Regions from separate parts of the Homo sapiens genome. Here all the other regions are linked to region 3. The links come from fine-mapping of genetic effects on gene expression. A gene starts in region 3. Each other region holds a variant in brackets. All regions are shown on one strand. Distances are from middle to middle. Region 1 overlaps PPEF1 (protein phosphatase with EF-hand domain 1). Region 2 has its middle 8.7 kb from the start of TRV-TAC1-2. Region 3 holds the start of PPEF1 (protein phosphatase with EF-hand domain 1).

Evidence for each region.
Region 1: its variant is fine-mapped to the expression of PPEF1 in whole blood (TOPMed, PIP 0.94).
Region 2: its variant is fine-mapped to the expression of PPEF1 in whole blood (TOPMed, PIP above 0.99).

What each region holds. Positions count from the first base shown.
Region 1 is chrX:18,737,383-18,745,567 of GRCh38, reverse strand. The region is part of intron 3 of PPEF1 (protein phosphatase with EF-hand domain 1); the gene reads right to left. Among named protein-coding and RNA genes, the nearest start is that of PPEF1, 34 kb to the right of the region's middle. The variant C/A (reference allele first, on the strand shown) is at 3,800.
Region 2 is chrX:18,679,559-18,687,743 of GRCh38, reverse strand. It overlaps a transcript of PPEF1 not described here. Among named protein-coding and RNA genes, the nearest start is that of TRV-TAC1-2, 8.7 kb to the right of the region's middle. The variant A/G (reference allele first, on the strand shown) is at 3,668.
Region 3 is chrX:18,703,656-18,711,840 of GRCh38, reverse strand. It overlaps PPEF1 (protein phosphatase with EF-hand domain 1), which reads right to left and starts at 4,196. Exons shown (of 16, transcript NM_001377996.1): 1 at 4,015-4,196. The coding sequence starts at 4,060.

The sequences.
Region 1 (8,185 bases), 34 kb before region 3:
AAAAATAAAGTTACTTGTGGCCAATGTGATTAAATACCTACACCCAAGAAAATCAATTGAAAAACTCCCAGAATTGATAGGAGAATTAAATGTAATACAGAGGCTGGGCATGGAGAATTGCTTGAGTCCAGGAGTTCGAGACAAGCCTGGGCAACATGGCAAAACCCCTACAAAAAATGCAAAAAAATTAGCTGGGCATGGTGGTGCGTGCCTCTAGTCCCAGCTACTCGGGAGCCTGAGGTAGGAGGATCATCTGAGCCCAGGAGGTCGAGGCTGCAGTGAGCCATGATCATGTTACTGTGCTCTAGTCTGGGTGACAGAGTGAGACCCTGTCTCGAAAATAAATATATATATATATAATATATATTCTATATAATTATATGGAATATAATATAATATATAATTATATTATAATATATAATATATATAATATAATTATATAATATATATAATATAATTATATAATATATAATATATATTCCATATAAATATATAATTATATGGAATATATATTATATAAATACTATAATAAATATATATTTTATATTTTTTATATGTATAAAATATAGACATTAATCACACTGGTTTGAATCACAGCTTCTCCACCAATGAGATGAATAACCTTGGGAGATTGCCTTCTAAGCCTCAGATTCCATATCTACAAAAAGGGGATGATAATACTACTAATCTCACTGGTTTGTCATGAAGACTAAATGAAATGATGTATTTAAAGCACTTAAATACATGGCACATGGTAAACATGTAACAAATATCAACAATAAAAATATTATTATTACTTAATAGTAGCACAATATAAGATAAATTGACATAATTCAAAAGCTTTACTAAACACTACCGATAACCAATGGAAGATATAATGGGGAAAATGTTCTATTCACCATAGCAACAAAAAATATAAAATACCTGGTCCGATAGGACATTTTGGCTGATCTGAGAAGCAGAAAGAAAAGTGAAAACAACACTTCCACACACTCCATCCCACTCCCCGCTTCCGCCAGTCTCTGTTTAAACCTATGGCTATGTATGGCAGCTTCGGCTTTCTGCCTGTGGGAGGAGGCTGATGTGTGAAAAGTGGACTGGGAATGTTTCTGTGGAGTCTCTACACCCCATGGAGTCCTATGCACTGGTTTTGAGCTCTTAAAGTAGTAGCACAGGGAGATCAACTGTTATAATTGATCATCAAGAGGTGGTAGGATTACAAGGACAAGTATGACTGCTTCCAGGGTCACCTCTTATCTTCAGAGTACCCAACGTGTCTCAAGATACTCCATGCCCCAGAGTTAAGACCATTAATCTGGTGGCCCCGATATCTGGAAATGTTAAATAACCTTCTGGTTCCTAAAAATATCCTATTTAGGCCGGGCGCAATGGCTCACGCCTGTAATCCCAGCACTTTGGGAGGCCGAGGCGGGTGGATCACCTGAGGTCGGGAGTTTGAGACCAGCCTGACCAGCATGGAAGAAACCCCGTATCTACTAAAAATACAAAATTAGCCAGGCATGGTGGTGCATGCCTGTAATCCCAGCTACTCGGGAGCCTGAGGCACGAGAATCACTTGAACCTGGGCAGCGGGGAGGTTGCAGGGAGCCGAGGTCATGCCACTGCACTCCAGCCTGGGCGACAGAGTGAGACTCTATCTAAAAAAATAAAATAAAATAAGAAGAGTTAGAAAACTCTTCCAAATTCATAAGAAAAAGACAAATAACCCAATAGAAAAATGGACAAAAAAACCTGAACAGGAACTTCACCACATGAGATGTCCACATGACCAATAAACATACAAAAAGGTGAGCAACTTGGTCGGGAGCGGTGGCTCATGCCTGTAATCCCAGCACTTTGGGAGGCCGAGGTGGGCGGATCACCTGAGGTCAGGAGTTTGAGACCAGCCTGGCCAATGTGGCGAAACCCATTTCTACTAAAAATGCAAAAATTAGCCAGGCGTGGTGGCACATGCCTGTAGTCCCAGCTACTCAGGAAGCTGAGGCAGGAGAATGGCTTGAACCCGGGAGGCAGAGGTTGCAGTGAGCCGAGATTACGCTACTGCACTCCAGCCTGGGGAACAGAGTAAGACTCTGTCTCAAAAAAAAAAAAAAAAAAAAAGAAAAAGAGAAAAAAGAAAAGAAAAAAAGTGAGCAACTTGACTGCTCAAAGGGAAATGCAAATTAAACCTGAAATACGATACCACTAGATATTCACCAGAATGACTAAAATGAAATGAATGTACTATTGCAAGTGTTGGTGAGGATATGGAGCAACTGAACTGGTGAGAGTATAGCTTGTTACAACCATCCTGTAAAAATGTCTGCCAGTATCTAATAAAGCTGAACAGATATAAGCGCTATAACCCCAAACTTCTATCCCTGGCTTGTGGTACATTTTTATGATAATGGCTCCCCAAGGAATCATGCCTCCCTATGTCCACATCCCTTTATACTGTAATACTGCCACTCCTCTGAGGAAGAGATGGATATCTCTTTAACTGCTCTGAATTCACGTCTGGCCTTGTGACTTGTTTTAACCGATAGAGTATGGCAGAACTGATTTCCCAGAGTTCTAGCACATAGGCCTTAAGAGGCCTGGCAGCTTCTGCCTTTGCCCTCTTGGACCCAGCCATCATGTAAAGAAGTCCAGAATAGCCTAATGGACAGAAAGGCTGCGTGAGAAAAAGAGAGGTAACCAAATTTTTTTTTTTTTTTCTGAGATGGAGTCTCACTATGTCACCCAGGCTGGAGTGCAGTAGCACGATTTTGGCTCACTGCAACCTCCGCCTCCCAGGTTCAAGCGATTCTTGTGCCTCAGTCTCCTGAGTAGATGGGATTACAGGCGTGCACCAACACACCCAGCTAATTTTTGTATTTTTACTAGAGATGGGGTTGGCCAGGCTGGTCTTGAACTCCTGATCTCAAGTGATCCATCCACCTCAGCCTCCCAAAGTGCTGAGATTACAGGCATGAGTTACTGCACCTGGCCGAGAGGTAACCAAGTTAATACCTAATACCAAAATCCCAGACATGTGATTAAAACCATTTGATCTTTCCTGCCCAGTCCAGCTAGATGAGTGAGCTCAACTGATAACACATGGAACAGAGGTAAGTTGTTCCCAGCAAGCCCTGTTCAAATGCCTGACCCACAGAATTACATGCAATAACATGGCTGTTGTTTTTAAGTCACTAAATGTGGGGGTAGTTTATTAGGTAGCAATAGATAACCAAAAATGAATATATAGCCAAATAAATGCATACATATTTTACCAAAAGGGACATGTACAAGAATGTACATAGCAGCACCATTTAAATCACCAATCTGAAAACAACTCAAATGCCCATACACAATCGAATGGATCAATTATGGTATATTAGTAAAATGGAATATTATTCAGCAATAAAAATGACCAAATTACAAGGATGATTCTTACAAATGTAATGATGATCAAAAGAAGCCAGACTCAGGACTGGGCACAGTGGCTCATGTGTGTAATCCCAGCACTTTGGAAGGCCGAGGCAGGCAAATCACCCGAGGCCAGGAGTTCGAGACCAGCCTGGCCAACAAGGCGAAACCCCATCTCCACTAAGAATACAAAAATTAGCCAGGTTTACTGGTGAATGCCTGTAATCCCAGCTACTCGGGAGGCATGAGAATTGCTTGAACCAGGAAGGTGGAGGTTGCAGTGAGGTGAGATTGCGCCACTGCAATTCAGCCTGGGTGACAGAGCAAGACTCTGTCTCAACAACGACAACAAAACAAAACGTTAAAAAAAAAAAAAAAAAAAAAAAAGAAG[C/A]AGCAGCCAGACTCAAATGGGTATATACCACATGCTTCCATCTATATAAAGAAGTTCAAAGACTAATCTAGGGTGTAGAAGTCAAGAAAGTAGTTATGTGATTGTGTGGGGGTTGGGTAGCAGTACAAGAAGGCAGGATGGGAAACTTATGTGGCCCTGATCATGTTTTATTTCTTGTTCCAGGTGCCAGTTACATGGGTGTGTTTACTTTGAGAAAATGTACTGAGTCATATAATTTGTATACCTTCCTGTAATGTATACTTCCAAAAAAGCTTCTATAAGAAGATTAAACCACTGTCCCCTTCTTTAATAAAAATATTTTTCTTATATTTTAAAATCACCTACGGAATTTTTTAAAATGCAGATTAAAACAACAACAATGACAACACAGTCTGAGTAGACATCTCCGGGCTGGAACCCAGCCACCTGTGGCTCTGAAACTCCGTAAGTGATTCTGATGAAGTGAGCCTGGGTTGAAGTATTAGGTCATTAGCAGAAAGTGCTGTTTCATTTTATCATTATCATATTTCCTCTCAAAAACATTTTTGCCAAGGAATATGAAGCATAAACAACTGTCTTCGAATTGCAGTTATCTAAAAGAAAAAATGGCAAAGTACCCACTTCCACCCACTCCCCATTCCTTAGGTTTGGCTATTTCACCATTCAGAAGGCTTCTACAGATCATTAAATGCTTTAATTAGTTTCATACATATGCACTTAGCTTAAATCATGCCCATTAAAACACCATTCTTTTACCACTTCACTTTGAAGGGTATTTACCAGATTATTTAAAAGATGCTCCTAGATGCCATACACATTTTAATGAGAGCAAAAAAAAAAAAAAAAAAAAAATGGTTGGCCCAAATTAAAGCAAAATGAGCGTTTAAGTCTGGCATCTGTCTTGGAGATAATAACAGGCAGATCTTAATTTGCAGGAGAAATACATGGTTGTAAAAAATTATAATTTTAAAATCATTTTTGAACTACACCTCCATTGCCTGCCTCTGCTTCAGAATGACTAGATGATAGGTAGACAGACAGACAGATCAAAGAGAAGAGAGGCCGGGTGCAGTGGCTCATGCCTGTAATCCCAGCACTTTGGGAGACTGAGGCAGGCAGATCACGAGGTCAGGGGTTCAAGACCAACCTGGTCAACATTCTCAAACCCTGTCTCTACTAAAAATACAAAAAATTAGCTGGGTGTGGTAGCAAGCACCTGTAATCCCAGACACTCAGGAGGCTGAGGCAGGAGAATCACCTGAATCCGGGAGGCAGAGGTTGCAGTGAGCCGAGACCGTGCCACTGCACTGCAGCCTGGGAAACAGAGCGAGACTCTGTCTCAAAAAAAAAAAAAAGAGAGAGAGAGAGGACAGAAAACAGACACAACGGGGCCAACTGTGTTTAATTTGCCATTTTCCCCTAGATCTGCTGCATGAAATACTCAAAATATTTTGATCTCTCAGCAAAAAAGTTTTGTGGATGAAAAATGAAGTTCCCTTGATCTTGGTTCCAAGATGGCCGAATAGGAACAGCTCCAGTCTACAGCTCCCAGCGTCAGCGACGCAGAAGACAGGTGATTTCTGTATTTCCAACTGAGGCACCGGGTTCATCTCACTCGGGCTTATTGGACAGTGGGTGCAGCCCACGGAGTGTGAGCAGAAGCAGGGCTGGGCATCGCCTCACCCAGGAAGGGCAAGGGGTCGGGGAATTCCCTTTCCTAGCCAAGGGAAGCCGTGACAGATGGTACCTGGAAAATCAGGACACTCCCACTCTAATACTGCACTTTTCCAATGGTCTTAGCAAATGGCACACTAGGAGATTATATCCCACACCTGGCTTGGAGGGTCCCACGCCCACGGAGCCTCGCTCACTGCTAGCACAGCAGTCCAAGATTGAACTGCAAGGCAGCAGCAAGGGTGGGGGAGGGGCATCCACCATTGCTGAGGCTTGAGTAGGTAAACAAAGCAGCCGGGAAGCTTGAACTGGGTGGAGCCCATTGCAGCTCAAGGAGGCCTGCCTGCCTCTATAGACGCCACCTCTGGGGGCAGGGCATAGCTGAACAAAAGGCAGCAGAAACTTCTGCAGACTTAAACATCCCTGTCTGACAGCTTTGAAGAGAGTAGTGGTTCTCCCAGCACAGAGTATGAGATCTGACAACGGACAGACTGCCTCCTCAAGTGGGTCCCTGACCCCCGAGTAGCCTAACTGGGAGACAACTCCCAGGAGGGGCCGAATGACACCTCATACAGCCAGGTACCCCTCTGAGACGAAGTTTCCAGAGAAAGGATCAGGCAGCAACATTTGCCGTTCTGCAATATTTGCTGTTCTGAAGCCTCTGCTGGTGATACTCAGGCAAACAGGGTCTGGAGTGGACCTCCAGCAAATTCCAACAGACCTGCAGCTGAGGGTCCTGACTGTTAGAAGGAAAACTAACAAACAGAAAGGACATCCACACCAAAACCCCATTTGTAGGTCACCATCATCAAAGACCAAAGGCAGATAAAACCACAAAGATGCGGAGAAACCAGAGCAGAAAAGCTGAAAATTCTAAAACTCAGAGTGCCTCTTCTCCTCCAAAGGAACGCAGCTCCTCGCCAGCAATGGAACAAAGCTGGACAGAGAAGGACTTTGATGAGTTGACAGCCGTAGGCCTCGGATGATCGGTAATAACAAACTTCTCCGAGCTAAAGGAGGATGTTCGAACCCATCGCAAAGAAGTTAAAAACCTTGAAAAAAGATTAGACGAATGGCTAACTAGAATAAACAGCGTAGAGAAGACCTTAAATGACCTGATGGAGCTGAAAACCACGGCACGAGAATTACATGACGCATGCACAAGCTTCAGTAGCTGATTTGATCAAGTGGAAGAAAGGGTATCAGTGATTGAAGATCAAATGAATGAAATGAAGCGAGAAGAGAAGTTCAGAGAAAAAAGAGTAATAAGAAATGAACAAAGCCTCCAAGAAATATGGGACTATGTGAAAAGACTAAATCTGCATCTGATTGGTGTACCTGAAAGTGACTGGGAGAATGGAACCAAGTTGGAAAACACTCTTCAGGATATTATCCAGGAGAACTTCCCCAATCTAGCAAGGCAGGCCAACATTCAGATTCAGGAAATACAGAGAATGCCACAAAGATACTCCTCGAGAAGAACAACTCCAAGACACATAATTGTCAGATTCACCAAAGTTGGAAATGAAGGAAAAAATGTTAAGGGCAGCCAGAGAGAAAGGTCGGGTTACCCACAAAGGGAAGCCTATCAGACTAACAGCGGATCTCTCGGCAGAAACTCTACAAGCCAGAAGAGGGTGGGAGCCAATATTCAACATTCTTAAAGAAAAGAATTTTCAACCCAGAATTTCATATCCAGCCAAACTAAGCTTCGTAAGTGAAGGAGAAACAAAATCCTTTAAAGACAAGCAAATGCTGAGAGATTTTGTCACCACCAGGCCTGCCTTACAAGAGCTCCTGAAGGAAGCACTAAACATGGAAAGGAACAACTGGTACCAGCCACTGCAAAAACATGCCAAATTGTAAAGACCATCGTGGCTAGGAAGAAACTGCATCAACTAACGAGAAAAATAACCAGCTAACATCATAATGACAGGATCAAATTCACACATAACAATATTAACCTTAAGTGTAAATGAGCTAAATGCTCCAATTAAAAGACACAGACTGGCAAATTGGATAAAGAGTCAAGACCCATCAGTGTGCTGTATTCAGGAGACCCATCTCACGTGCAGAGACACACATAGGCTCAAAATAAAGGGATGAAGGAAGATCTACCAAGCAAATGGAAAACAAAAAAAAAGCAGGGGTTGCAATCCTAGTCTCTGATAAAACAGACTTTAAACCAAGAAAGATAAAAAGAGACAAAGAAGGCCATTACAAAATGGTAAAGGGATCAATTCAATAAGAAGAGCTAACTATCCTAAATATATGTGCACCCAATACAGGAGCACCCAGATTCATAAAGCAAGTCCTGAGTGACCTACAAAGAGACTTAGACTCCCACACAATAATAATGGGAGACTTTAACACCCCACTGTCAACATTAGACAGATCAACAAAACAGAAAGTTAACAAGGATACCCAGGAACTGAACTCAGCTCTGCACCAAGCAGACCTAATAGACATCTACAGAACTCTCCACCCCAATCAACAGAATAAACATTCTTCTCAGCACCACATCACACTTATTCCAAAACTGACCACATAGTTGGAAGTAAAGCACTCCTCAGCAAGTGTAAAAGAACAGAAATTATAACAAACTGTCTCTCAGACCACAGTGCAATCAAACTAGAACTCAGGATTAAGAAACTCACTCAAAACTGCTCAACTACATGGAAACTGAACAACCTGCTCCTGAATGACTACTGG
Region 2 (8,185 bases), 24 kb after region 3:
GCACTCCAGCCTGGGCAACAGAGTGAGACTCTGTCTCAAAAAAAAAAAAAAAAAAAAAGAAGAATATTTAAAGAGAATAATTTAAGTGGCAATCTCTTTGTAAACTATAAAGTGCTAAACAAGTATTAGCTACCATTTCCAGGAGAGGCCTGCATTTCCCAAGTGGATATACATCCTAGAGAAGAAATGTGGTCTGGCCAGTGGGTCAGGATGTGTCTAGGGACATAATAGAATTAGATTCTAGAGTCAGCTTGCTTGGGTTCAAGTTCTTGCTCAACCACTTAACAGCTCTGTGTGAGCTTGGGCAAATTACATAACCTCTCTGTGCCTATTGCTTCAACTATAAAACGAGGCTACAGATAGCACCAATCACACTGGGTTGACGTAACGAATGAATGGGTTAACACACATTGTAGCAGCCACTGATCATTACTGTCCATTCTCCCCCTGTTCCTTACTAATAAAACCCCCGTTTTGTTCTAGGTGGCAGTGTTCGGGCAACAAAACTTGATTTGCTAGGCTCCCTTGCAACTATGGGTAGTCATGTGACACAGTTCTAGCCCTTGAGATACAAGCAGAAATCTATGGGCTGAGGCTTCCAGAAAAGCTATTTTCCTGATAAAAAGGAAAAGACTCAGCTGGCATAAGCCTCTTCTCTTTTGTCCTTCCCCCTATTCTGCCTGGAACCAGGACACAATGCCTGGAGGAGGAGCAGCCATCTCATGCACACTAGGAAGAAAGCCTCACACTGAGAATAGCGAAACCATGATGCAGGATGGATGCAGGATGGAGGGACGAGCTTGAGACCTGGATGACAATGTGACACTGTATATCTCCTGGCTTCGTATCATGTGGGACGAAAACCAAGCGCTCTGTGTTAAGCCCCTGGTGTTCTATTTACCTTATTTCAGGCAGCCAAACACATTCTCTAACCAATACAACTATAAAGCAGCTTGGTGCCTGGCTCATAGTATTCAATAAATGTTAGCTATTATTATTATCATTAGGCCAGCATTCTGTTCCCTAACCAGGTGGCTAGCAAATAGTCCCCTAACTTCCTTGTAATAGAATCACAATTTTCCTTTTCGAAATCACCCCCGCTTCCTGTTTTTTAGCCAAGTGATTTGCATGGGACTGACGCAGCCCCCAACTCTAAGCGCGGGCCCTGGTTGACTTAAGCCAATTATCCGAGCCCACTCCCCAAGCAACAGCAACTTTTCAGGAACAAGCACATAATTCAGGCCTAAGACAGCATATCCTCTTCTCCTGGCAAAAAGGAGTGTTTGGGGTGGGCGTATAGCTAAAGAAAGATATTATGAGTGAATCTCGGGGTACCTGGAGAGAGTGCTGGGACAGACTCACTTATCTCCCCCTAGTGTGGTGCTCTGAGCAAGGTTTCACCATGAGAAGAGCCAGTCCAGGGGGTGAAATTGATACATGGGGAAGGGCCAACCAAAAGGCAGGGAAATGGAGCCGGAGCCCTCCATCCTTAGTCTCTGGATCAAATCTTACCTTCGGAAGTTTCAAACCAGATTCGTTTGAAACTGGTTTTGCTCAGTTTGGGTCGGATCTTCTGCCACAGGCAACTACAAGATTCTTTCTGATACTGTTAGAAGAAAAAAATAATAATTTTACTGTAAGGACTACATGCCTACAGGGGAACTTTCCAAATCCTGGTGTAGTGCTTCTATTCAGTAAAATCTATAATCCAGCACCATATAAGTTCACATCACAATCACCTTTTTAAAAGAAAAAATGACAATAAGATTCACAATCAATTTTCAGTTGTGTGAATTCATTCAAATTTCTCTTCTGAAAGAAAAAAAAAGTCAGCCAGTTGAAAGTGTTTTGTTTTTGTTCTTTTTGTAAACACGTCCAGGAGAGGTCCATTAAGAATAAATTTGTATCCAGGCTTTAGAAGAACGCTGAGCCCAGAAGCAGACGCTAGAAATGTATGACTAATATTGAAATAATATTCACAGACAGTTGTCATGGCAGCCTACTCCGTCTGCACAAAATAGAACCCACTGCTTTTTTTTCTTTTTTTTTTTTTTTTTTTGAGATGGAGTCTCGCTCTTTCACCCAGGCTGGAGTGCAGTGGCGAGATCTCGGCTCACTGCAAGCCCCGCCTCCCGGGTTCACGCCATCCTCCTGCCTCAGCCCCTCAAGTAGCTGGGACTACAGGCACCCGCCACCGCGGCCGGCTAATTTTTTGTATTTTTAGTAGAGATGGGGTTTCACCGTGTTAGCCAGGATGGTCTCGATCTCCTGACCTCGTGATCCACCCTCCTCGGCCTCCCAAAGTGCTGGGATTACAGGCGTGAGCCACCGTGCCTGGCAGAACCCACTGCATCTTAACAGGATTTAGCAGAGGAAAACTGCTAGCATGCAGATAGCCTCTAAATGAATTAAACAACCTACTAATTGGTTTTGCTTTTATTACTGTAGATGGCCTTAGGACTCTACCCAAATTGTATCCAAAAGATCCCCAATTCTTGAAATCATTAGTAAAAATACACAATATGACTGGAGTTTAACACCTGCACCACACTTGAAATCTTTCCCTCAGACTGTGCAGAAAGCTTAGAGGCAAGTCTTATTGCGTGCCCAGTTGAATCCATGTGGAAACAAATCAGGCAGTAAGTGTTGTGGGAGTCGAGGGAGTAACCCATTCCATTTCCATCACCAATTAGCACTGGCTGCTATCAGGTGTTGCCTTTTAAATGGGACTCTAGAGGAGTGGGCAGTAGTAGTCAAATTGTTCTGTGTTCAGTTACCTAGTCACAGGGGAGTGACTTTAGAAACTAGGCACATCTCTGCCGGGTGTGGTGGCTCAGGCCTGTAATCCCAGCACTTTGGGAGGCCAAGGCAGGCAGATCACCTGATGTCAGGAGTTCAAGATCAGCCTGGGCAGCATGGTGAAAATCCATCCCTACTAATAATACAAAAATCAGCAAGGCGTGGTGGCGGATACCTGGAATCCCAGCTACTTGGGAAGCTGAGGCAGGAGAATCGCTTGAACCCGGGAGGTGGAGGTTGCAGTGAGCCAAGATTGTGCCACTGCACTCCAGCCTGGGCGACAGAGTGAGACTCTGCCTCAAATTAAAAAAAAAAAAAAAAGAGAGAGAGAAAAAGATACTAGACACATCCCAAGATAGGTTAAGTAAGAGAGGGGGAGACAAAACATTCTAAGCTCATCTGTTTCTCTCTCGAGTGGCCATCTCTAGGAAATGTAATCTCACTGAAAGTGATCGTGGGTGATTGTGAAGGTTATAGATAGCTGGTCTGGAGAGGTATACCATGTGAGGCCTTCTTTCCTATTAGACAGGTTTTTGCTTATCACCCTGCCTATCCCTCATCAGCCTTCTCTTTTGTCAAGTTTCTTCTTTAAGAGAAAGGAGACCGGGCCCAAATTCAGATCTAGTAACATCCTACATTAGGAAAACCACATCAAGCCACTATCTTCCATTAACATACTGGAACAAATGAGTCCTTTGGGTTAACTCATGTTCTTCAGACTTCTTGAGATGAGGCCATGTCATATACTTTTTTTAAAAAAGCTCCCGCACTACCCAACACTGTGTTCCCAGACATATTGCAGGCATGTGATAATGAACAACTTCCATCAAGGGACTGGAACACAGGGCAAGCCCTTGGTAGCTGGGGG[A/G]CAAATTAAAGACATTGTCAAAATGGTACAGGAGAGAGCTACGGGTGAGCTATGTGCAAAGGTTCAATCAGTAGGATCTGTATTTTTCCTCATATAACTGAAACTTCTACTAAACAGTAGCATTAAAAATGAGGGATTTTATTATTCATTTCACAAGGAATCTGGAGTAGGGAATCTGGGGCTGGGACCCAGGCACCTTCCTTCTTTAGGCCAAGCCATGCAGCTTTCTTCTTCCCAATTGTCAACTCATGGGTGCAAAATAGTAATCACGACAGAAAGTGATGCCCTCCTTCTAGCACCACACTCACGTTCCAGGCAGAAAGAGATGAACTATGGGCAAAAGGGGGGATACCAAATGGGTCTACCTCCTTTCAAGGAAATGAAGCTGTTTTAGCCAGACACATCACCAAAGCAAACAAAATCAGGCACTATAGTGCAGAGGCTAAGCACAGCCCACGGAGCCAGATGGTCTGGGCTTAGAACCTTGCTTCTTTATGTCACTGTGTGACTTGGTCAAGTTACCAACTTACTCTGTGCCTCGATTTCCTCACCTGCAAACTATGATAATAGTACAGGGTTCTCATGAGGATTCAATGAGTTAATACGAGTGAAGCACTTAGAATAGTCCCTAATACACAGCAAGCACTGTACAACTGTGCGTTTTTACTTGTCTTATTGAGGAAAAGAGGAACGGATATTCCTCTTTTCCTCAATATCTGCTAGTAGATAAGCAACTAGCACTATCTGACACAGACATGTTGCCCACTGTATAATTGTACCTGGCCTGGTTACTGTGCCACACGTGAGCAAGCGCCCTGCTGTACATGAGAACTACTGGCTCCCCAGCAGACAGGGAAACCACAACCCAGGTGATACGGTTTGGCTGTGCTGCAACCCAAATCTCATCTTGAATTGTAGCTCCCACAATTCCCACGTGTCGTGGGAGGGACCCGGAGGGGAGGCAATCGAATCATGGGGCAGGTCTTTCCCATGCTGTTCTCATGAGAGTGAATAAGTCTCATGAGATCTGATGGTTTTGGCTTCCCCTTTTGCCTGGCTCTCATTTCTCTCTTGCCTGCCAGCATGTAAGACGTCCCTTTGCTCCTCCTTCATCCTCCGCCATGATTGTGAGGCCTCCTCAGCCACTGGAACTGTGAGTCCACTAAACCTCTTTCCTTTATAAATTGCCCAGTCTGGGGTTTGTCTTTATTAGCAGCGTGAGAACAGATTAATACACCTACCCTACCAGAAGCGGCCATTCCCATAACTGTCAGCCTCATCCCCACTTACTGGGGACTGAGAACAACCAAAACTTTCAGGCATCCGAGCCAGGGCACCACCGTTAGCCACTGTGCCAACGCTCATCCATTTGAGACACAGATCATTAGGACTCTTTCCATTGCAAGTGTCAGTAAGCCCATTCCAGCTGGCTTAAGCAAAGCTAGGAATGGTTTCCTCAAATAACTGAAGAGTCAATGGTATATGCATGACTGGGGCCGGGGCGTAAGTCATGGCACCCAGCTGCTCTATTGCTCAGCTGGGATCCCTTGGTGTCCGCTCCATCCTCAGGTCTCCAGCAGGTCGTGGACGTCTTTCATGCTTCATGGTCATTCACTAACTTCTGAACCTCCTCCCTATGTCTTGGTAATTCCTCCTGTTTGACTCCTAACTCGCCAAAGTAGAAACAAGAAATTTGCTTTTCCAGCCTCTTTGATAGCAAGAGCACAGGCAGGTAAACTCAGCTCTGCCAGCGACTTCAATCCAGAAGAGGGCAACCTGAAGACGTGGAGGGCTCCCAAAGGCCATCTACTGCCAAGGTTAGTGGCAGAGGTGTCCAGTTTCCAGAGACAGCAGTGGTCAAGATTCTGGGCTCCAACACTGGTGTGACTTACTAAATATGTACTCAGAGGAGGCAGCAGTGCGCACCTGCGCTGGTGCAGTCCCTCAGTGAGATTTGGACATCATTCCTGGCTTTGGAGTCACCGAGGCCTTCTTGGAGATCCTGTGAGCCATCTGGTGTCCTTTAATAAACTCCTTTTCCTCTTAAACTTGTGGGAGTGTTGAAGCCGCTTAGGTGGTGTTATGCTTTCGTAACAACCCCAAACGTTAGTGGCTTACAATGATAAAGGTTTGTTTTGCACTCCAGTTCCGCGGACAGTGCAGATGGGCTGCAGTTATGTAACATGGAGCCTTCCCTCTGAAACTCAGGCCAACCTGTCTATGGGGCATTGCTGTTCTTCTTGCAGCAAAGGGGAAGGACAGAAGCAGCCACCACACTGGCTCTTACACTTTTGCTTGGAAGTGATACTCATCACTTCTGCTCACATTCAACTGGGCAAAGCAAAGCCACCTGGGCAAGTCTATCGGGGGACCATGGTGTCAAAATCCTACATGGGGAAGAAAAGTGAATATTTTGAACAAGAGGATTCTGTTGTATGCAACCAAGAGCCCTAATATAACGCAATAGTAAGATGGCAGCAGAAGTGCCAGCCTCTACATCATCTCACGTTCAAGTCCAGGGTGAATTAGGAAACGTCTCTGCTCAAGAAGTCAAGCAAAAATCCAGGATTAGCTCTTACTGGAACTCATTGCCCTGGCTTGAGTCACCCTCAACACTGACACATTGTTTTCAAGACATATTCACTGAGCACTTACTATATGCTGGAAACTATTTAGACTCTGCGTAATACAACAGAGAATGAAGCCAAATCCATGCCCTCATGGATCTTTCATTCCAGTCGAGGATGGTGGGGACAATCAACAAAATAAATTAGTAAATATGTAGAAATTTAGTGCTGCAGGCCAGGCGCAGTGACTCACGCCTGTAATCCCAGCACTTTGGGAGGCCAAGGTGGGCGGATCACGAGGTCAAGAGATCAAGACCATCCTGGCCAACATGGTGAAATCCCATCTCTATTACCATTTGACCCAGCCATCCCATTACTGGGTATATACCCAAAGGATTACAAATCATGCTGCTATAAAGACACATGCACACGTATGTTTATTGTGGCACTATTCACAATAGCAAAGACTTGGAACCAACCCAAATGTCCAACAACGATAGACTGGATTAAGAAAATGTGGCACATATACACCATAGAATACTATGCAGCCATAAAAAATGATGAGTTCATGTCCTTTGTAGGGACATGGATGAAACTGGAAACCATCATTCTCAGCAAACTATCGCAAGGACAAAAAACCAAACACTGCATGTTTTCACTCATAAGTGGGAATTGAACAATGAGAACACATGGACACAGGAAGGGGAACATCACACACCGGGAACTCTTGTGGGGTGGGGGGAGGGGGAGGGATAGCATTAGGAGATATACCCAATGCTAAACGACGAGTTAATGGGTGCATCACACCAACATGGCACACGTATACATATGTAACAAACCTGCACGTTGTGCACATGTACCCTGAAACTTAAAGTATAATAATAATAAAATTTAAAAATATTTATATATATAAATTAGCTGGGCGTGGTGGCAGGTGCCTATAGTCCCAGCTACTCGGGATGCTGAGGCAGGAGAATCATTTGAACCCAGGAGGCGGAGGTTGCAGTGAACCGAGATCACGCCATTGCACTCCAGCCTGGGCGACAGAGCGAGATGCCGTATCAAAAAAAAAAAAAAAAAGAGAAGAAATTTAGTGCTGCAGAGAAAAATAAGCAGGAAAGGGGGGCAGTGAGTCTCTAGCATGAATGGAAAAGAATAATAGCAATTTTCAGTAGACAGTCAGGAAAGGCCTCACTGAGAAGATATCTGGGTATGACCCGAGCAAGGTGAGAGAACAAGCAACAGCGTGATCTAAGGAAAAACTATTCGAGGCTGAGAGCAGCAGCAGCAGCAGCAGCAGCAGCAAAGGCCCCGAGGCAGGAGAGGCCTAGTGTAACTGAAGGGCAGCAAGCAGGCCGGTGTGGCTGGAGTGCAGTCAAAGCAAAGGCAAAGTTATAGGATTTTTTTTTTTTTTTTTTTTGAGGACAGGGTCTTGCTCTGTGACCCAGGCTGGGGTGTAATGGCACAGTCACGGCTCACTGCAACCTCCGCCTCCCAGGCTCAAGCGATCCTCCCATCTTAGCCTCCCAAGTAGCTGGGATTACACGTGCATGCCACCATACCTGGCTAATTTTTGTATATTTAGTAGAGACGGGATTTCATCATGCTGGCCAGACTGGTCTCAAACTCCTGGCCTCAAGTGTCTGCCCACCTTGGCCTCCAAAGTGCTGGGATTACAAGCATGATCAACTGTGCTTGGCCAGTAAGAGGATTTATAACCAGAGAGGCACAAGCCTTGTAGGCCACTGTAAGGCTTCAGCTTTTCTAGTTGAGGTAGGGAGCCATTGAAGGGTTTTGCACAGAATGATGAGAGCTAATCTGAATCTTGAAAGGACCACTCTGGCTACTGTGTGGAGAATAGTCTGTAGGGGGGAAAGGGCAGAAGCTGAAAGGCCAAGATCTGAGGCTACTGGCTATGATCCAGGCAAAATGTGATAGTGGCTTTGATTAG
Region 3 (8,185 bases):
GGAGGTTGCAGTGAGCTGAGATTGTGCCATTGCACTCCAGCCTGGGCTACAAGAGTAAGACTCCGTCTCAAAAAAAAAAAAAAAAAGCTATAGTAATCCAGACACTGGTACTGGCATAAGAAAGACATACAGATCACTGGAATAGAATTGAGAGCCCAGAAATAAACATTTATGGTCAATTGATTTTTGACAATGGTGCTAAGAGGATTCAATGGGGAAAGAACAATCTTTTCAACAAACAGTGCTGAGACAACTGGATATCCACATGCAAAAAATGAATTTGTACTCCTACCTCACACCATACGTGAAAATCAGCAACTCAAAATGGTTCAAATGCCTAAAAGTAAGAGCTAAAAGTACAAAACTTTTTTTGGCCTTTAAAAACATATATATTTAGGGGGTATAAGTGTAATTTTGTTACATGTATAATGAAGTCTGGGCTTTTAGCGTAACCATTACCCAAGTAGCATACATTGTACTCATTAGGTAATTTCTCATACCTCACCCCCCTCCCACCCTCCCAGCTTTCTGAGTCTCCAGTGTCTATTATTGTATTCTGGATGCCCATATGTATACATTATTTAGCTCCCACTTTTAAGTGAGAACATGGGGTATTTGACTTTCTGTTTTTTGAGTAATTTCACTTAGGATAATGGCTTCTTGTTCCATCCATGTTGCTGCAAAAGACATGATTTCATTCTTTTTTATGGCTGAGTAGTATTCCATGGCATGCATATATATATATATACACACACACACACATATATATACATATATATATGCACACACATACATACATATATACGTATATATACACACACATACACACACACACATATATACACACACACACACTTACATATACATACACCACACATTTTCTTTACCCAATCATCCATTGAAAAACACTTACGGTGATTCCATATCTTTGCTATTGTAAATAGTGCTGCGGTAAACATAAGAGTGTAGATATCTATTTGATATAATGACTTCCTTTGGGTAGACTCCGTGGTGGGATTGCTGGATGAAATGGTAGTTTGGTAGCTCTATTTTTAGTTCTTTGAGAAATCTCCATAATGTTTTCCACAGAGGTTGTACTAATTTACATTCCCACCAGCAGTGATAAACATTCCCTTTTCCCTACATCCTTGCCTACATCTCTTATTTTTTGACTTTTTAGTAATAGCCATTCTGACCGGTATGTAAGGTGGTATCTCATTATGGTTTCAATTTGCATTTACCTGATGATTAGTGATGTTGAGCATTTTTTTCGTGTGTTTGTTAGCCATTTGTATGCCTTCTTTTGAAAAAATGTCTGTTCATGACCTTTGCCCACTTTTTAATGGAGTTATCTTTTTTTTCTTGTTGAGTTGTTACAAAACTCTTAAAGTAAGACGTGAGCAAAAATCTTTTTGGACTCGGGAATGGATTCTTAGATATGACACCAAAATCACAAGCAACCAAAGAAAAAATAAAGTGAACTTCATCAAAAGTAAAAACTTTTGTGCTTCAAAGAACACCATTAAGAAAGGATGAAGAGAATTCAACAAATGAGAGAAAATATTTGCAAGTCACATATTTGATAGGAAACTTGTATCTAGAATATATAAATTTATCTTACAACAATATAAAAATAAATAATTCAATTAAAAATGGGTAAATGATCTGAATAGACATTTCTCCAAAGCAGATATACAAATAGCCAATAAACACATGAAAAGATGCTCAATGTCATTAGTCACTACTGAAATACAAATGAAAACCATGGTGTGATACCACTTCATACCCACTAGGATGACTAAAATCAAAAGGACAGACAATAACAACTATCGCTGAAAATGTGGAGAAATTGAAACCTTTATACACTGCTGGTAGGAATGTAGAATGGTGCAGTCACTTGGGAAAACAGCTTGGAAATTTCTCAAAATGTTAAACATAAAGCTACCGTATGACCCAGCAATTCCACTTCTAGGTATATACCCAAGAGAACGGAAAACATATGTTCACAGCAGCATTGTTCATAACAGTCAAAAAGCTGAAACAGGTCGGGCACAGTGGCTCACGCCTGTAATCCTAGCGCTTTGGGAGGCCGAGGCGGGCAGATCACCTGAGGTCAGGAGTTCGAGACCAGCCTGGCCAACATGGTGAAACCCTGTCTCTACCAAAAATACAAAAATTAGCTAGGTGTGGTGGTGTGTGCCTGTAATCCCAGCTACTCCAGAGGCTGAGGCAGGAGAATCGCTTGAACCTGGGAGGCGGAGGTTGCAGCGAGCCGAGATCGCCCCACTGCACTCCAGCCTGGGTGACAGAGCAAGACTGTCTCAAAAAAAACAAAAAACAAAAAACAAAGCTGAAACAATCCAAATGTCTATCAATTGATGAATGGATAAATACAATGTGGCATATTCATACAATGAAATATTATTCCACAATAAAAAGGAATATAGTACTGATACATGCTACAACATGGACAAAGCCAGACACAAAAGGTCACATAATATATGACTCCATTTACATGAAATGTCCAGAATAGATAAATCCATAGAGACTGAATATAGATTTGTGGTTGCCAGGGGCTGAGAGGAGAAAGTGCTTAATGGATAAGGGGTTTTACTTTGGAGTGTTGGAAATGTCTCAGAAGTACATAGGGGTTGTGGTTGCACGACACTGTGAACATACCAACTGCTGCTGAGTTGTTCACTTGACAATGGCTAATTTTATGTTACGTGAATTTCACCTCAATAAATCACAGGTATTTGAAAGAAAAAGCAATCCAAAAATCTAAGCTAATATTTCCACTTACATGCAATGTTTTAAAAGTTGAAAAGTATTTCAAAAAGAGAGAGGATTTGTTTTTACAAGTTGGACTTGGCTTTTTTTTTTTTAACCTAGGAAATTTGGCTAAATTTAAAGAACTGTGAGTAATCCTAGATATAAAAAGATAATTTCTCTTTACTCTCTGCTAATAAACGTCTACTACAGCAGTAGAGTTCAGATGGAGCTTTTGAAAGATTTATTTCATGACATGCTTAAAGATTTGAAAGAGTCAGTACACCTCCTATGTCCCTTCCTACTTTCAGAGATGAGTTTCCTACATCATCAGCACAAGTCAGCTGGGTAGGAGAATAACATTTGATTCCCAAAGTAAAACATCCCACGCTAATTAGTATAGCACACTCTGCATCCTAAACCCTCCACCTTAAGCCTGAATAAACTTCCAAAGGCAAGACGTGGAATAGAAGTTGGGGGAATTACCTATAACCTAGACATCAAAGAAGTGGAGTTTAAGAGCAAATTACTCATATTAATTGTCCCAGCTTATTTACTTGTTTTTATTTTAATTTGCTTGTTGGAAACTCTATCCCTTAAATGCTCAAGTTTGTTTCAACTAGATGCCAATAGCCATGAGAAAGAACCTCAGTACAAAATAAACAAAGTGAATATTTAAGCTTCTAATTATATGGGGGTACAGAAAGGCATGCCATCTATTTAGAAACAATACACCTTTTTTTTGGAAACAGATGATCTAGCATTCTCCCAATTCTCCTAGATTATTTTTAAAACGTGATGCAAATCTCATGAAGTTCTGTGTTGAATAGATATAGAAATAATGTGATCATTGAGTTATAAAATCCAATAAAAATTCAATGATGCTACTAAATGTCACAAAAGTAGGGATATAGCTATTTATAAAAGTATTGAAGAAACACATATAAATTACACTGCCTTTCTTGTTCCCTGCCACTGAGTTTTAAATTGAGATTTTATATTGGTACATTATCGAATGAAATTAAATCAAACACAAAATATCTCTAAGACAATACTTTATGGTACTTCATAAATTCAAAGCTACATCTTCCTAAATGTAGTTTCCTATGCTACTCTAACGATGCCTTGTGCAAATCACACAGGGCAGCTTGAGCATCGTGGGAGTAAATGAGAAAGGAGAAGAGGGTGAGGGCAGCTCATTTTCCCCTTTTCATTCATAACCACAGGCACATTCCCAGTACTCACATGTGTCAGATCTCCTGGTTTTCGTTGAAGAACTGCTGCATCCCATGACTTCTATCTAAATCATATGTGTTCATGAATTCAACTTCTGATTTTAAGACAGAGTGTGAAAAGTGCCTCCCTTTAAGCTGCGAGGAACCACTCTTAGCCGATCCTCTTCAGTCATAGATTCTAATGAGGAATACACAGGAGGGAGGGAAGGAAACCGCCAGTTAACCACATGGTAGCTGAGGGGCTGCTCAGCAGGATTCATTTTACGCTTCTTCTGAATCGCTGTTCATCATGTGATGTGGAAAGTGATCAGACATAATCTAATCCTGGCTTATTTTCCAAAACACAGCAGCAGCTACAGAGCAGCTATAGGCTGCTTCTCTGCTAGACATAAATGAGTTTCTCCATGTCTAGGTCACATCCAGCTCTGTATAAAATAGAGCATTCAAAATGAAAAGAAAAATCGAAATATGAGAGTGTACGATTTTCTAATTTAAATATGGGGAATGGGATGTGGAGGAGCTGACATAATTAACTGTTTTGGTTTTCAGCTCAAAGTAATTCAACCTATCTAGGCTTTTAAAAACACAAATTGGAAGTTGACTATGAGACAAAAACAACATATTTAACAGCTATGCTGAAATTCAAAGTGAGTTCTTTGACAGTATTTCGCGGAATAAGTTGGGAACATTTGTTTTAAAAAAAAGGAGGCAGCCGGTCGCAGTGGCTCACGCCTGCAATCCCAGCACTTTGGGAGGCCGAGGCGGGCGGATTACGAGGTCAGGAGTTCGAGACCAGCCTGGCCAACATGGTGAAACCCCGTCTCTACTAAAAGTACAAAAATTAGCCAAGCATGGTGGCACATGTCTGTAATCCCAGCTACTCAGGAGGCTGAGGCAGCAGAATCGCTTGAACCCAGGAGGCGGAGGTTGCAGTGAGCTGAGATCGCACCACTGTACTCTAGCCTGGGCGACAAAGCGAGACTCCATCTCAAAAAAAAAAAAAAAAAAAAAAAAAAAAGGAGGTTTGAAACCTCCCCCCAAATTTAGGAATTGTAATCTGTGAGAGTGTCCTTTTATTTATTTTATTTTTTGAGACGGAGTCTCGCTCTATTACCCAGGCTGGAGTGCAGTGGTGTGATCACAGCTCACTGCAGCCTCAACCTCCCAGGCTCAGGTGATCCTCCCGCCTCAGCCTCCCTAGTAGCTGGGACTACAGGCATGCGCCACCACACCTGGCTAATTTTTTGTATTTTTAGTAGAGACGGGGTTTTGCTGTGTTGGCCAGGATGGTCTCGAACTCCTGACCTCAGGTGATCCACCTGCCTCGGCCTCCCAAAGTGCTGGGATGACAGGCGTGAGCCACCGTGCCTGGCCAAGAGTGCCCTTTTAAACAAGCTCTCTGGGCACTGCTGAGGCCCCTCTGGAGTCTAACTTTGTGTTCTATAGTCCTTCTCATGAGCTCCCTGACTCCCATAATCACTTCACGGGAGTTTTCAACAAAATTCCTTTCCATAGTATACTGTCACGTCACTTTTTAGGGTGATGTTTCCTTTATTTTGTGATGCTCCAAACCAACCTGATCTAATATATTTGCATTCCTTTTTTTTTTTTTTTTTTTTCAGACAGGGTCTCACTCTGTCACCCAGGATGGAGTGTAGTGGCACAATCACGGCTCGCTGCAGCCTTAACCTCCCAAGCATGTGCCGTGACACCCGGCTAATTTTATTTTTTTGTAGAGACAGGGTCTCCCTATGTTGCCGAGGCTGGTCTCAAACTCCTGGGCTCAAGTGATCCTCCGACCTTGTCCTCCCAAAGTGCTGGGATCACAGGTGTGAGCCATCTTGCCCAGCCCTATTTGCATTTCTTGACAGGCACAAAGTCAGCAAACAACTGACATATCTATCTTTCCATTGGTACTACACCAAAAGCTTCAAAATTTCAACTCGACTGAAGAAAGGGAAAACTAAAATAAGCAAAATATTTGAACTATGGCCATGTTTTGAAAATAACAATAAGCTTAGTAAACAGATTTTCTGACCAGAGGTGAACCTGATTATTTTATGTATTGAATGAATTAGCCTTCCTAAACTTTGGGTTACTTCCAAATTTTTATTTATTTTTTGAGACAAGGTCTCGCTCTGTCACCCAGGCTGGAGTGCAGTGGCGCAACCATGACTCACTGCAGCCTCCACCTCCCGGGCTCAAGTGATTCTCCTACCTCAGCCTCCTGAGCAGCTGGAACTACAGGCATGCGCCACCATGCCCAGCTAATTTTTGTACTTTTTTGTAGACATGGGGTCTCACCATGTTGCCCAAGTTGGTCTCAAACTCCTGGCCTCAAGCAACGTGCCCACCTCAGCCTCCCAAAGTGCTGGGATGACAGGCATCAGCCACCGTGCTTGGCTTTATTTCCAAATTCGATAGGCATTTCTTTCGTGTCTTCCTTATCTACATCATGGCTAAAGAACATTAACAAGATCAGATCCAAGGGCAGGATGAGCCCTGTGGCATCCCACTCCAAACCATCCTCCAGGTTCACCACAGATCCGTTACCTTCATACTCGCTGAGCACATTTGTTCAGTTAGCTGGTAAACTCACCTATCATAACTCTCATTTATCTGTGAGACATCCTGGAGAATTTTACTAAATATTTTAATAAAATGATGATATGTATATATTTTGATACTTTGACATTCCAGCTTATTCCAGCAAAAGAAGAGAGAGGGAAGGAGGAGGAGAAAAGGAAGGAAGGGCAGGGGAGGAAGAAAGGAAGGAAATCAATTTGGCAACATTTTTAATACAAAATCATAGAAGTTTAAAGGTGAGAGAGACCTTTAAAATTACCTAGTATTTACACAAAGTGCAAGGAAGTTAAGCAACTTGTCCCATGTCATATAGACCTGTGCTTGTCATACTTCGTTGCATATGAGTGTCACCTGGGGAGCTTTTCAAACTCCCAGTACTCAGCCTGCACCTCATTAAGTCAGAATCTCTTGGGGTTTAAAAAATACTGATGCCCAAGTCCCACCCCCAGATAATTTGACATAATTGGTACTGGGTGGAGGATGAGGCATCAAGATTTTTTTCAGTTTTCCAGATTCTAATACACAACAAAGTTTGACAATCTGTAATAGAGACGGTATTTTAGAAAACCCACGGTGCTGCATAGTGATGATCACATTTTCCTAGAAATGCTTTGGCTCCATCTATTTCAAGCTGAATTTTTCCAGAGGTCATATCAAGTCTGTGGCTTCTAGCATATATTCTTTTCTCATTTTTGAAATTGGGGCACTGTTCATCTAGGAATTCATCTAGTCCTGGTGACATTCTCCAGGTGCCTAGATCAGTGCTCTCCAACTCGAGTGCTCACAAGACTTATTGGGGGTGGGGGGATGCAGATTCCCAGGCTTTACTAACAATACTCAGATTCAAAAGTCCAGTGCCTTGGAATACACATTTAAAGTGCACCATGCCGAGAACTTTGATGCAAGGAATCCCCATATCTCAGTTGAAGAAACACTATTTTCCAACAGTATCCAAATCTCGCTTGGGCTTCGCTCCATCCTCATGCTATTTTTTCCACCCCTTTTTATGAAGACATAAGAATTGGGGCTGGGCACAGTGGCTCTCATTCGTAATCCTAGCACTTTGGGAGGCTGAGGCAGATGGATCCTTTGAGCCCAGGAGTTCGAGACCAGCCTGGGCAACATAGGGAGACCCCATCTCTACCAAAAAATACAAAAAATTAGCCAGGCATGGTGGTGCACATCTGTAGTCCCAGCTCCTCAGGAGGCTGAGGTGGGAGGATCACCTGAGCCTGGGAGGTCAAGGATGCAGCGAGCCGTGATCACACCACTGCACTCCAGCCTGGGTGACAGAGTGAAATCCTGACTTTAAAAAAAAAAAAAAAAAAAGGTATGTTTTTTAATTTAAAAAAGAAAACAGGGGAAAAAAAGAATTGAGCATTTAGTAGGCCATAAACACTGATTGGACTGATTGACATATTTCAATTTCGATTTTCTTTTTCCAGAAAAAAAAAAGCACTGTCTCAATATCTCTCCAGAGGCATTTGGTTTTCAGTCACCCCTCAGTTAATCCACAACAAACACAACTGCATATAAAAGATTCAGTAAGAACTAAAAAGCATCAAACTTGAGTATATTTCTGTTAGACTATTAGC